Linked DNA regions of Homo sapiens: region 1 is linked to region 2. The links come from fine-mapping of genetic effects on gene expression. A gene starts in region 2. The other region holds a variant in brackets. All regions are shown on one strand. Distances are between the middles of the regions. Region 1 overlaps LINC02122 (long intergenic non-protein coding RNA 2122). Region 2 holds the start of LINC02122 (long intergenic non-protein coding RNA 2122).

Evidence for each region.
Region 1: its variant is fine-mapped to the expression of LINC02122 in nasal epithelium (TOPMed, PIP above 0.99).

The regions. Positions count from the first base shown.
Region 1 is chr5:74,065,842-74,071,227 of GRCh38, forward strand. All of the region lies in intron 2 of LINC02122 (long intergenic non-protein coding RNA 2122), which reads right to left. Among named protein-coding and RNA genes, the nearest start is that of LINC02122, 35 kb to the right of the region's middle. RefSeq lists an enhancer at 4,011-4,511. The variant TTC/T (reference allele first, on the strand shown) is at 2,046.
Region 2 is chr5:74,099,906-74,105,291 of GRCh38, forward strand. It overlaps LINC02122 (long intergenic non-protein coding RNA 2122), which reads right to left and starts at 3,223. Exons shown (of 3, transcript NR_183289.1): 1 at 2,835-3,223.

The sequences.
Region 1 (5,386 bases), 34 kb before region 2:
TGGGGAGGGTGGCCAAATTTAGAGACTCAGCTCATATCAAATACAAAGAAATATATTATACTTTTCAAACATCTGGATTGCCATATTTAAAAGTGATAGAAAAATAAGAAAATATTACAGATTTTCTTGCAAAAAAGGTTAAAATATCTTCATGTCAAAAACAGCATAAAGAGAACTAATTTGAATACAATAAACTGAAAGAAATATTTGGAGCTTTAAACAAATTTAGAGGGGTCACACAATTTGATAGTCAAAACACCAACATTCCAAAAACCAATAGGTAAAGGAAATGGAACAGAAAACTCGCAAAGGAGGAAAAACGATTGGAAAGCTCAGTAGTAATAAAATAAATGGAACTTAAAACAAGTGTTACCATTTTTTAATTTATTAAATTCACTTTTATAAATAAGAATATTAAAAGAGCACAGTAAGGTGGGCATTTCCCTGCCCCACTCTAAGTGAAGATTAGCAGCCCAATTTTATAAGATAATTTTACATATAAGTAAGAAGAAATAAAAGGAAATACATAAATAAAACATCGTACCATGCTCTCTTCTTTTTCTCATTATTCAATTTGTAGCAACTCTAAGGAAACAACCCAAACTGTAGTAAAGTTTCTATGTGTAACAAGTACATTGTAGTTACAACCTAAATATCTGTCAATAAAGAAGTATGGATATAAATTTGTTCACCCTATGATAAGATATTATGTAGCTGTTAAATTTCATGAATACTTTTAAAATTAAAATTTGATAAATACACGTATTTTAAAAATTCAATTGTATTCAAAGTCTCATAGCAAACCTCAGCAACTTCATGCTCCATCCTTCCTCCCTCCCAGTTTATGCCACCCCCAGAGGCAGACATTTACAACTCTCCTGAGTCTCTACTATCAGAAACATTCATATTTCTAAACCAAGAGTGCCTTCTCTTGGTTTGTTAATCTGAGGCTTAATTCTTGTCTTCCTATTATGCTAAACAAAGATTTAGCTCTCTTTAATCTTTTTTCCCATGACATCCCCTTAATTCTCTGAATAATTATGTCACAATTATTCATTTAAGTAAAAGATAATGTTTACATTATTACTGTGTAAATATTGTTTGTTAGTAAACCAAATAAGAAAGGTTTACATTTCCTTATTTGTGGAATGTTTTTCTAATTATTGCATTGACATTATTTTGCTAAATTTTCTATGTGCCTGTTGATATACTTAAAAAATGAAATTCTAGGCCGAGCCTGGTAGCTTATGCCTGTAATGCCAGCATTTTGGGAGGCCCAGGTGGGAGGATCTCTTAAGGTCAGGAGTTGGAGACTAGCCTAGGCAACATAGTGAGACCACATCTTTACATAAAATTGTTAAAAATTAGCCAGGCATGGTGGTGTAGTCTAGCTACACCACCAGACTAAGGCCTGTAGTCTTAGCTGCTTGGAGCACTGGGGCTAGAGGAGTGCTGGAGCCCAGGAGTTCAAGGCTGCAGTGTGTAATGATTGTGCCACTGCACTTCACCTTGGATGATAGAGCAAGATCTCATCTCTTAAACAACAACAACAACAAAAAACAGATCTTAATTATCTTCCAAACAGCCCAAATATTAGATACCAGTTCATTTTTCCCTGGGAGACCCCTTCCCTGTCACCCTGTCCTTCACCTGCCTGCTCTGTGCCCAGGGCCCTCTCAGCCTGAGGGGCAGCTGTCCACCTGGCACTTCCCTTTGCCAGGGCCTCGTGTTAGGTCCCTTAGAGATCCCATTTTCTTTTTTCTCGATTAGTCCTTCACATTGGTAAAGAACAACCTCTAGCAGTTCCTAAGAAAGGGTGCATGGAAGGTAAGTATTTGGAAGCAATGTGTGTCTAAAAATGTTTATTCCATTCTCATGGTTATAGAATATGTAGAAAATAATTTCTTCTCAGAATTTTGAAATCCTTCCTCAATATAGTCTACCTCCCGATATTGATGTTGTGAAATTTGGTGTAAATATCATTCCTGATCTGTTCTGATCTGTTCCCCTTCTCCATGGGTGCTTTTTTCTTTTCGTTCCCAGTG[TTC/T]TCAAGTTTCATAACAATATTTTTGGCCTGGGTGTGTTTGCCTTCATTGTGCTGGAAATTTTATGAGCCTCTTAAATCTGGTGACTCATTTTTTTCATTACTTCTTTAAAAATTTCCCCCCGTTTTCCTGTTTTTCCTGGAAGTTTACTTAGTTAAGCATTGGACTTATTTGATGCTCTAACTTTCTTGTCTTTTCTCTGTCCTCTACTTATTTGCCTTTTAATTCTACTTTCTGGGAGAGTCTCCTGACTTTATGGTAGAATGCTTCTGTTGAATTTCACATTCAGCCTTCATGTTTCTGATTTCCAAGACCTTCTGTTCTTGATTGCTCTTATCCCTTACTTCCTTACACCTTACTTCCTATTTGTGTTTGCAGATGCCATATCTTCTCAAAGTGAAAAAATATATTTGCATTTAAACTGCTAGGCTTGGAAGTGACACCAATCACTCTGCTCACATTCCAGTGGGAAGAACCAGTCATTATGGCCTCACCTAGATGTAGGAGGTTGGACAATGTACTCTAGTGGAGTGTCCAGGAAGAGAGAACATTAGCAGCGTCTTCCACAGAGGATTTCCCTGGTTAGATTACCTTTGGTTTTCTGTTCATTTTTAAGAGCTAACTACTAAAAACTTTGTTGAAAGCCCCGTGTGTATATGCTAGACATGTCATTCCTTAACTGGAGATTACGTGGTAACAAGATGGCTTTTTTTGTTGTTGGGGGACCCTCAAATATCAGTATCTGAAGTTTTTTTCTCCAGGGACATTTTTTATTTGTTTTTGCAGGGGGCTGGGGAGTATATATTTAGTTGTTAGCGTTTCGAAGCAGAAGGAACAGAGCTAGGGAGGGTTTGTCTAATTCATACCTAAAATTTCACTTAATTCTTCTGAATTTATGTCCAGGTTTCTTTCTCCTCCTCCCCTTCTGTGTTTGGTTTCTCTGAGTCCAGATTTTCTCTGGTTCAATTTATTTAGAGACTAAACTTCAGGTTTCCTGCGGGAGAGGAGGGGGCTGAGAATCCAGCTAGTTCCACGTTAAGACATGAACCAATCCTCCTGCATTTGGTTCTGCATCTCATTCCACCCCTCAGTAATACCTGCTGCCACCAAGTCCTGGGCCTTCCTGAGTTCTGTAGGGTGAAATAGTCATTCTTGGCCTATCTATCACTGCAGACCTTGGGGTTGTGGCCTCTGCTCTGAAAAATCATAACATTGCTTCTCCATGAGCTCCTAAAAAATTATTGCAGAGTCTTACTTGCTCTTGTCTTTCTCTCATTCTTTGTCCCTGTAATTGTATATGTTTTAAACTCCTTTACTCTCATCTTAAATGGATTTTAGAAAGGAGAAGATATGAACAAATGTGGTCAATATGTCATATCCAATGAGAAGCTTGTAAGTAATTTCATAATCCTCAGTATAAAAAAGACATACAAACTGTATAAATAGTGCGATCCCAAGCAGGTTAAAATGTATAGAAAAAATATAGGAAGGAATACATAAAATGTGAATTTTTTATTACTTATGTCTGACTGATGGAATAATAGTAATTTTTAGTTTTCCTTAAATCTTTATTTATTGATTTATTTTATTGATTTTTTTTCTTTTTTGAGATGGAGTCTCACTCTGTTGCCCAGGCTGGAGTGCAGTGGCACAATCTCTGCTTGCTGTAACCTCTGCCTCCTGGGTTCATGCGATTCTCCTGCCTCAGCCTCCTGTGTAGCTGGGACTACAGGCGTGTGCCACCACGCTCGGATAATTTTTTGTACTTTTAGTAGAGACAGGGTTTCAACCGTGTTAGCCAGGATGGTCTCAATCTCCTGACCTCGTGATCTGCCCGGCTGGGCCTCCAAAAGTGCTGGGATTACAAGCGTGAGCCACCATGCACGGCCATCTCAACTCTTTTATTTCTAAGTATTCTTGCTGAGCATGATTGACTTTACTATTACTATTATTTTTGAGACAAGGTCTGGTTCTGTCACCCAGGCTGGAGTGCAGTGGTGCAATCTTAGCTTACTGCAGCCTCAAACTCCTGGGCTTAAGTGATCCTCAGCTAAGCCTCCTGAGTAACTGGGACAACAAGCGTACACTCATGCTGGCTAACTTAAAAAAAATTTTACAGAAACAAGGTCTCGCTGTGTTGCCCAAGCTGGTCTCAAACTCCTGGCCTCAAGGCATGCTCCTGCCTCAGCCTCCCAAGTCACTGGGATTAGAGATGCAAGCCACCATGCCCAGCTTGAGTATGACTTACTTTTGTAATCAAAATAAACTAAATATTTTTTAAAAATACTCTTTAAAGTAGAGAAAATATTAAGAGGCAATTAGGAGATTATCTCAGTTGGAAGTGTTTTTCTCTAGGCATAGCATGTACAATTGAAATGGATCTTGTGGATTCTATCACCAATGGATAAGTAGACACACATAATGCTAACATTGTATGTTTGCTGTGTGTCAAACACTTTACTCAGTATTTCATTTAATGGTTATAATGATTCCAGAGGTAGGCATTATTTTCTTCCCCATTTATAGATGAGGAAACTAAGGCGCAGATGTAGGAAGTACATGGTCCCATGCTGGTATATGAAGAGCCAGGTTTTGGACCTACTAAGTTTAATTCTAAGGAGACACCCTTAATCATTATATTATAGTCTCTTACCACATTTGTATGTGTTTGCATATGTTCTTAGCTAATTCTTTAAAATAATTGTGCTTATATCTATACATATATTTGTTTAGTGAAGAATATGCATAGGCTCTTGAACAAGTTATAAAGTGAGGACAAGAATAGAGGTCAGTAGGGCATCTCTCTGAGAACTGTGATAATATATACCAGAGGTGGCTACACAACTACCTGATTCGGAATCCTCATCTCTTTTTCTTTCCTCTGTACTTTTCCATACCAATAAATAGTCTCCCACCCTTGGCACAGGGGAGCACTGGGCTTCTGAGTGCATTCAGAAAACAAGCAACACTTACACCTGTTTAGCCTCATGTTTCCTAACAGCTTTAGAAGTACAATATGGCCCTAGGTCTTTGTTTCAGTACAGTAGGTGGAGGGGGCTTCTTGCCAGCCAGAAAGCGTTAAAAGTTCATGGCAGCTGCCTAGAAACCACTGCAATGTTTCCCATAAGAGATGAATAAGCTAGTTTAGACTCCCATGTATTTCCAGGAATGTAGGAGTGTTCGATCTATTGTTCTTTCCATTCTATTGTTTCAGAGCTCTAATTAAATAATGCCACATATAAGATTCCCCAACGCCCTAAGAAAATATATAATTTGAATTATTTGGGACGGCCTAATTGTTTTTTTCTCCCCCCCCCGCCCCCCCAAGACAGGGTCTCGCT
Region 2 (5,386 bases):
CAAATGTTATAGCATTCTGAACCCCCACTCCCACCCCACCACAGAGAGTATAGGGGCCTCCAGCCCAGGGACTATCATAGAATCATATCTACCCTTAGATCTGGATCCTGTTCTCTGGGTGAAAAAATGGGTGGATTTCAGCCAGAAAAGGAATACTCTAGACATATTTTATAAATCTTGGACCTCTTTATTATGAGAACAGACTATGAGGCAGAGCAGATGTAGCTGTTAAGGCCGTCTTTTGCAAAATTGAAGAAATTGTCTTTTCTAGTTATAAAAATAATATGCGTTCATTGTAAAAATTCAGAAAAATGCTGAAAACATTTTAAGGAAGATAAAAATCAACAATAATCTTTCTCCAAGATATGCTAAAGAATGTTTATATACACTGATATATTTCTTATGTACATATAATTTGAATTAATTTGTGTCTGCAAAACAGATCATACTGTGTGATATATACTATTTTGCAATCTGCTTTTTCACTTAACAAGATATGTTATGAACATCAATACATGTAAATAAATATAGATCTGCATCATAATTTTTGGCTACATATTATTTGATCATATGGACATGTGTGAGAATCATATAATACATTTAGCTTAGCTGAACAAGTGCAGACTTATTCAGTGAGACCTGGGATTATGTCTATCAGTTTATCCCCACAGCATGCCAAGATATCTTGCTTGTTAAATGAAATTCATAAGAGGCCATGGTTTTGGACTAGCCTCCTGTGCTAGGCTCCCGCAAATCAGACCAAACGGGAATGGAGTCACTCATGCTAGGTGCCACCTGATCCAACTGAGCTCTGAAACAGGCCAGTTTTTAAAAAAAAAAAGAAAAAAGAAAGAAAAAGAAAGGCCAGGAGAGTCATAGCAACCAATCTCAAGGGGCCCAGTTCACTTCAGCCGGCAAGCTAAAGAAGTCCCCTGGGTTTAAACTATACAAGGAAAATAACTTTGAAACAACCAGTCTGCTTTTCCTTTCACTGTTTCTGCTTTCTTCTGCCTTTTTCTGTCTGTAAAGCCCACCTCCTCTACTCAGCTCATGGGAACACTCATTTTATAGAATGTGGTGTTGCCCGATTCTAGAATTGCAAATAAAAGCCAATTAAGATATTTAAAGCAAATTTGTTATACTTTTGTCTTTTAGTATGCTCATGATAGATTCTCAACAGGGCTCAATCAAGCAGACCTTTGCAAAACTGGGGGTGCCTCTCAGGCTTTGGTGCGTATGCACATCACACGGGGATTTTGTTAAAATGCCGATTATGATATAGAAGGTCTAGGTGGGCCATGAGATTCCAGAATTTCAACAAGCTTCCCAGGAGATGCTCAAGCTGATAGACACTAATGTCTATCATTATTCAGCAAAAAGTCCGAAATGGCTTTTTGCACTTTATGAGTATAAAAAACCCCTTGAGGGCTAAATAATTGATTGGAAAAACAAATCTATGGAGTGCATGTATTTATTTGGTTGAAAGATGGCCTGAAGAGCTTTTTATAAATCTATGACCCTACTGGACCAGCAAGGATTTAGACTAGTCAACTAGGGGGGATTTTGCCACCCAAGGGACATTTGGCAAAAATCTAGAGAAATTTTTGATTATTATGATTGTGTATGTGTGTGAGAAAGAAAGGGAGAGGGAGATACTGGCATCTAGTGGGTACAAGCCAGGGATGCTGCCAAACATCCTACAATGCACAGAGAAACCTCCACAACAAATAATTATCTGGCCCAAATTGTCAATAGTGCCACTGTCAAGAAACTGATCTAAACTAGATTTTTTTTCAGATAATATCTCTCATCTGAACCATAGAACACAGAAAATTATTTTTTTGACTATTTTCTCAATTCTCTGAATTCTAAGTAACTGGTAGTAATCTAAATGCCTAAGAGACAGCTAATTCATTACATACAATGGATGCTTTCGGGAATTCCAGCTTAATTCTTGTCCAGAGCTCTTATTTAAAGCTGGTTGTGGCCAGGCATGGTGGCTCATGGCTATAATCCCAGCACTTTAGGAGGCTGAGGTGGGTGATCACCTGAGCTCAGGAGTTCAAGACTAGCCTGCATGACATGGCAAAACCCTGTCTCTACAAAAAAAATAAAAATAAAATAAAATAAATAATATATATATGCCAGGTGTGATGGCGTGCACCTATGGTCCCAGCTATTTGGGAAGCTCAGGTGAGAGGATTGCTTGAGCCTGGGAGGTCAAGGCTGCAGTTAGCCAAGATCGTACCACTGCACTCCAGCCTAGTGGCTCAAGGGAAGTCAAAACCTCATTGTTTCGTTTTTCTCTCTGCCTCCTTGTTTCCCTCCCTATCTCTTTCTCCCTCCCCCCCTCTACTTCCCTCCCTCCCCCCCTCCCCTTCCTTCATGAGTAGAGGGATCTGAAATGACTTTTTACACTTTATGAGTATAAAAAACCCCTTGAGGGCTAAATAATTGATTGAAAAAACAAATCTATGGAGTGCATGGATTTGTTTGGTTGAGAGAGTCTGAAGAGCTTTTTATAAGTCTGTGACCCTACTGGAGCAGTCTTAATGCAGAGCTGTAGCCAATAAAGCAAGTCCAGCCAAAGGTATTCAAGATCTGTACTTGAGTTTCTTGAACACCACAAAAGGGGTAATAGAACACGACAACATTTCAATACAAAGAAAATGTAAACATTTTGTTTTCTTCATTTTCTCGTATATATAGCTGTTCCCTCCCTTTCTTGATTGAAATACCACTCAATTCCTCCACCAGCCTTATCTAGTCTCAGACCTTTTATATTTCTCCCCAGTTACTCCCAATTCTGTGTCATAAAGGATCAAAAAACCAACCTTGCTGAGAAGAATCTTCCTTCTTTTTATTAGGTAGCAAGTGTAAGACTCAGGATTCCAAGAAATAAGCATCAGCCAGGAGGATTTTCAATAAACTCTTCTAGGTTACATTTCTACTCAAGATACCATTAGGTAAAACTGTTCAGTCTTCTGCTGATGAGACACCTTTTCTTGAATAATTTTGAAGTTCCAAACAGATCTGGAGACCCCAAGAAATAGGTCCACTTAAGGCCACGCTCCATGGACATAACATCCCTATGACTTCTCTCTCTACAAGGTAATCAGCCTTCATCATCAAAAGTGAAAATGACATTGATGAGATGCAATTCATGCTGGAGAATAGGGTCTGGAGGCAGGGCCAGTTTGCACCGACTTCCTAGAAATGAATCAAAAGGAAAACTCCAACTTCCCATGCTTAAGTAACAAAAAAACAGAGGCTACTCCCTTTGCAACCCGCACCCCTTTCTGCATCGCAGATGAGAAATGGCAAGTACCTCTGATTGGTCCCCTTCCTACAACCAATCAGACATCTGCATAGGGTATTACTTGGTAACTTCACTTCAGTCTGACTCGTCACCTTCCACAACCCATTAGACTGGTTGTGGGCCACTCCTTTATTTACATAGGGTGTAAACCAACTAACTACTGGGAAACCTCTAAAGGGTATTTAAACCCCAGAACGTTCTATAACCAGTGCTCTGGAGCCGCTGGCGCCTACTCCCACCCTGTGGGGTATACTTTCGTTTCCACAAGTCTGTGCTTTTGTTGCTTCATTCTTTGGTTGCTTTGTTTAATTTGTCCAATTCTTGGTTCAAAACGCCAAGAACTGGGACAAGTTGTAGTCAAGACCCTCCACCAATAACACAATTACGATTCTTCCTTTCCTATTTGGCAGAGTCAGACTTCCTCTTTTCATAAACAGAAATACGAAGTAGCCAGCAGGCCAAAATTGTCAAAACAAAGAGTGAGAGGTAAAGAGTGAAGAACGCCTGGTGATTTCCTTGTTTCACCTTCTTCCAAGCCTTGCTGTGCCATGTGCTCCTGGTGGCAGGTTACCCAGGAAGGAAGCATTGTAACTTTGTGGCTGACCAGGCAGGATGGTCACACGGCTCCTGACGCAGGCCCAGACGTATTCACGAATCACTCCATAGTGATTCTGATGTGCTGCCAGAGTTGAGAACTAAAGATTAAAGCCCTTGGCTAGTCAGGAGGATTCCATTCCTCCCCAACATGGGCTGTACCCTCATTTAACCAATGCCTTGCCAGCCCATGTTAGATGGATGTGATGGTTAATTGTATGTGTCACCTTGACTGAATTATAGGTGCCCATATTAAACCGTATTTCTGGGTATGTCTGTGAGGGTGTTTCCATATGAGTTTAGCATTTGCATCAGTGGACTCAGTAAATTGCTCTTCCCAAAGTGCATGGACACCATCCATTCGACCGAGTGCCCGAGTAGAACAAAAGTCAGAGAAGGGAGAAATTTGACCTTTTTTTCTCCCAGCCCGCCTGCTTGGGTGGGACATCTCATCTTTTCCTGCCCTCTGACTGGGATTTATACCATCTGCTCTCTTGGTTTCCTGGCCTTCGGACTGAATCTGAATTATACCACCAACTTTCCCAAATCTCCAGCTAGCAAAACAGCAGACAGTGGGACTTCTTAGCCTCCACAATCATGTGAGCCAGTTCCTCGTAATAGCTCTGTGTGTGTGTGTGTGTGTGTGTGTGTGTGTGTGTGTGTGTGTGTGTGTGTAAGGTCTCCTATTGATTCTGTTTCTCTGGAGAACCCTAATACAATGGACATCCTGTCTCTTCTAAGAAAACGGTGAGCCACATGCACCCCACAACACACACACACACCTTCCTTTGGTTTCCAGTTGTCTGGCATTTACCTTGGAGCAGAGCTTAAGTCTTTACAGTTGCGTAATTTAGGAGCACACACAAAAATGATGTTAGCAGAGAATATTTGCTAAGCAAATTAACAGTGCAAATAAGATTAGAGGGAGGTAAGGAGTATGTTTAAATGTTGAAATGCTTGAGGACAAACTGTGCTCAATCATCTTAAAACCATCCATTAATATGTAAGTAATTTAAAATTAATTGCAAATGCCTTTGCATTTAATTGCAGGCTATGCATTGTTGGAATGTGTGTGTGTGTGTGTGTGTGTATGTCTGTGTAATTGCTAATATATTTAGATTTCTAAAAGGTATATATATATTGTTAAAATAAGTAAATGACTGCTTTCCAACTGTTCTATGATTCACACATTTATATCACAAACATCCTCAACATACCAGTTTGTATCTATGGATTTGAATGAAATGGCATGACCACTACGGCCCGTATTTTGGAAACAGCAAGCCCCCGACTGTTCTTACAGCACCTTGCAAGATCCCCCACATACATATGGAACTTCCCAAAGAGTAATTTTCATCCATCTGTGAGTCACCTTAGGGGCACTGCCTGTCACTGCCTCTGCTATCCAAGTTCGGCCCCAAAGGGCCTCTGCTGCCTGTCCCACCACGGCCCTGACCTCCAGCACCTGCCTTG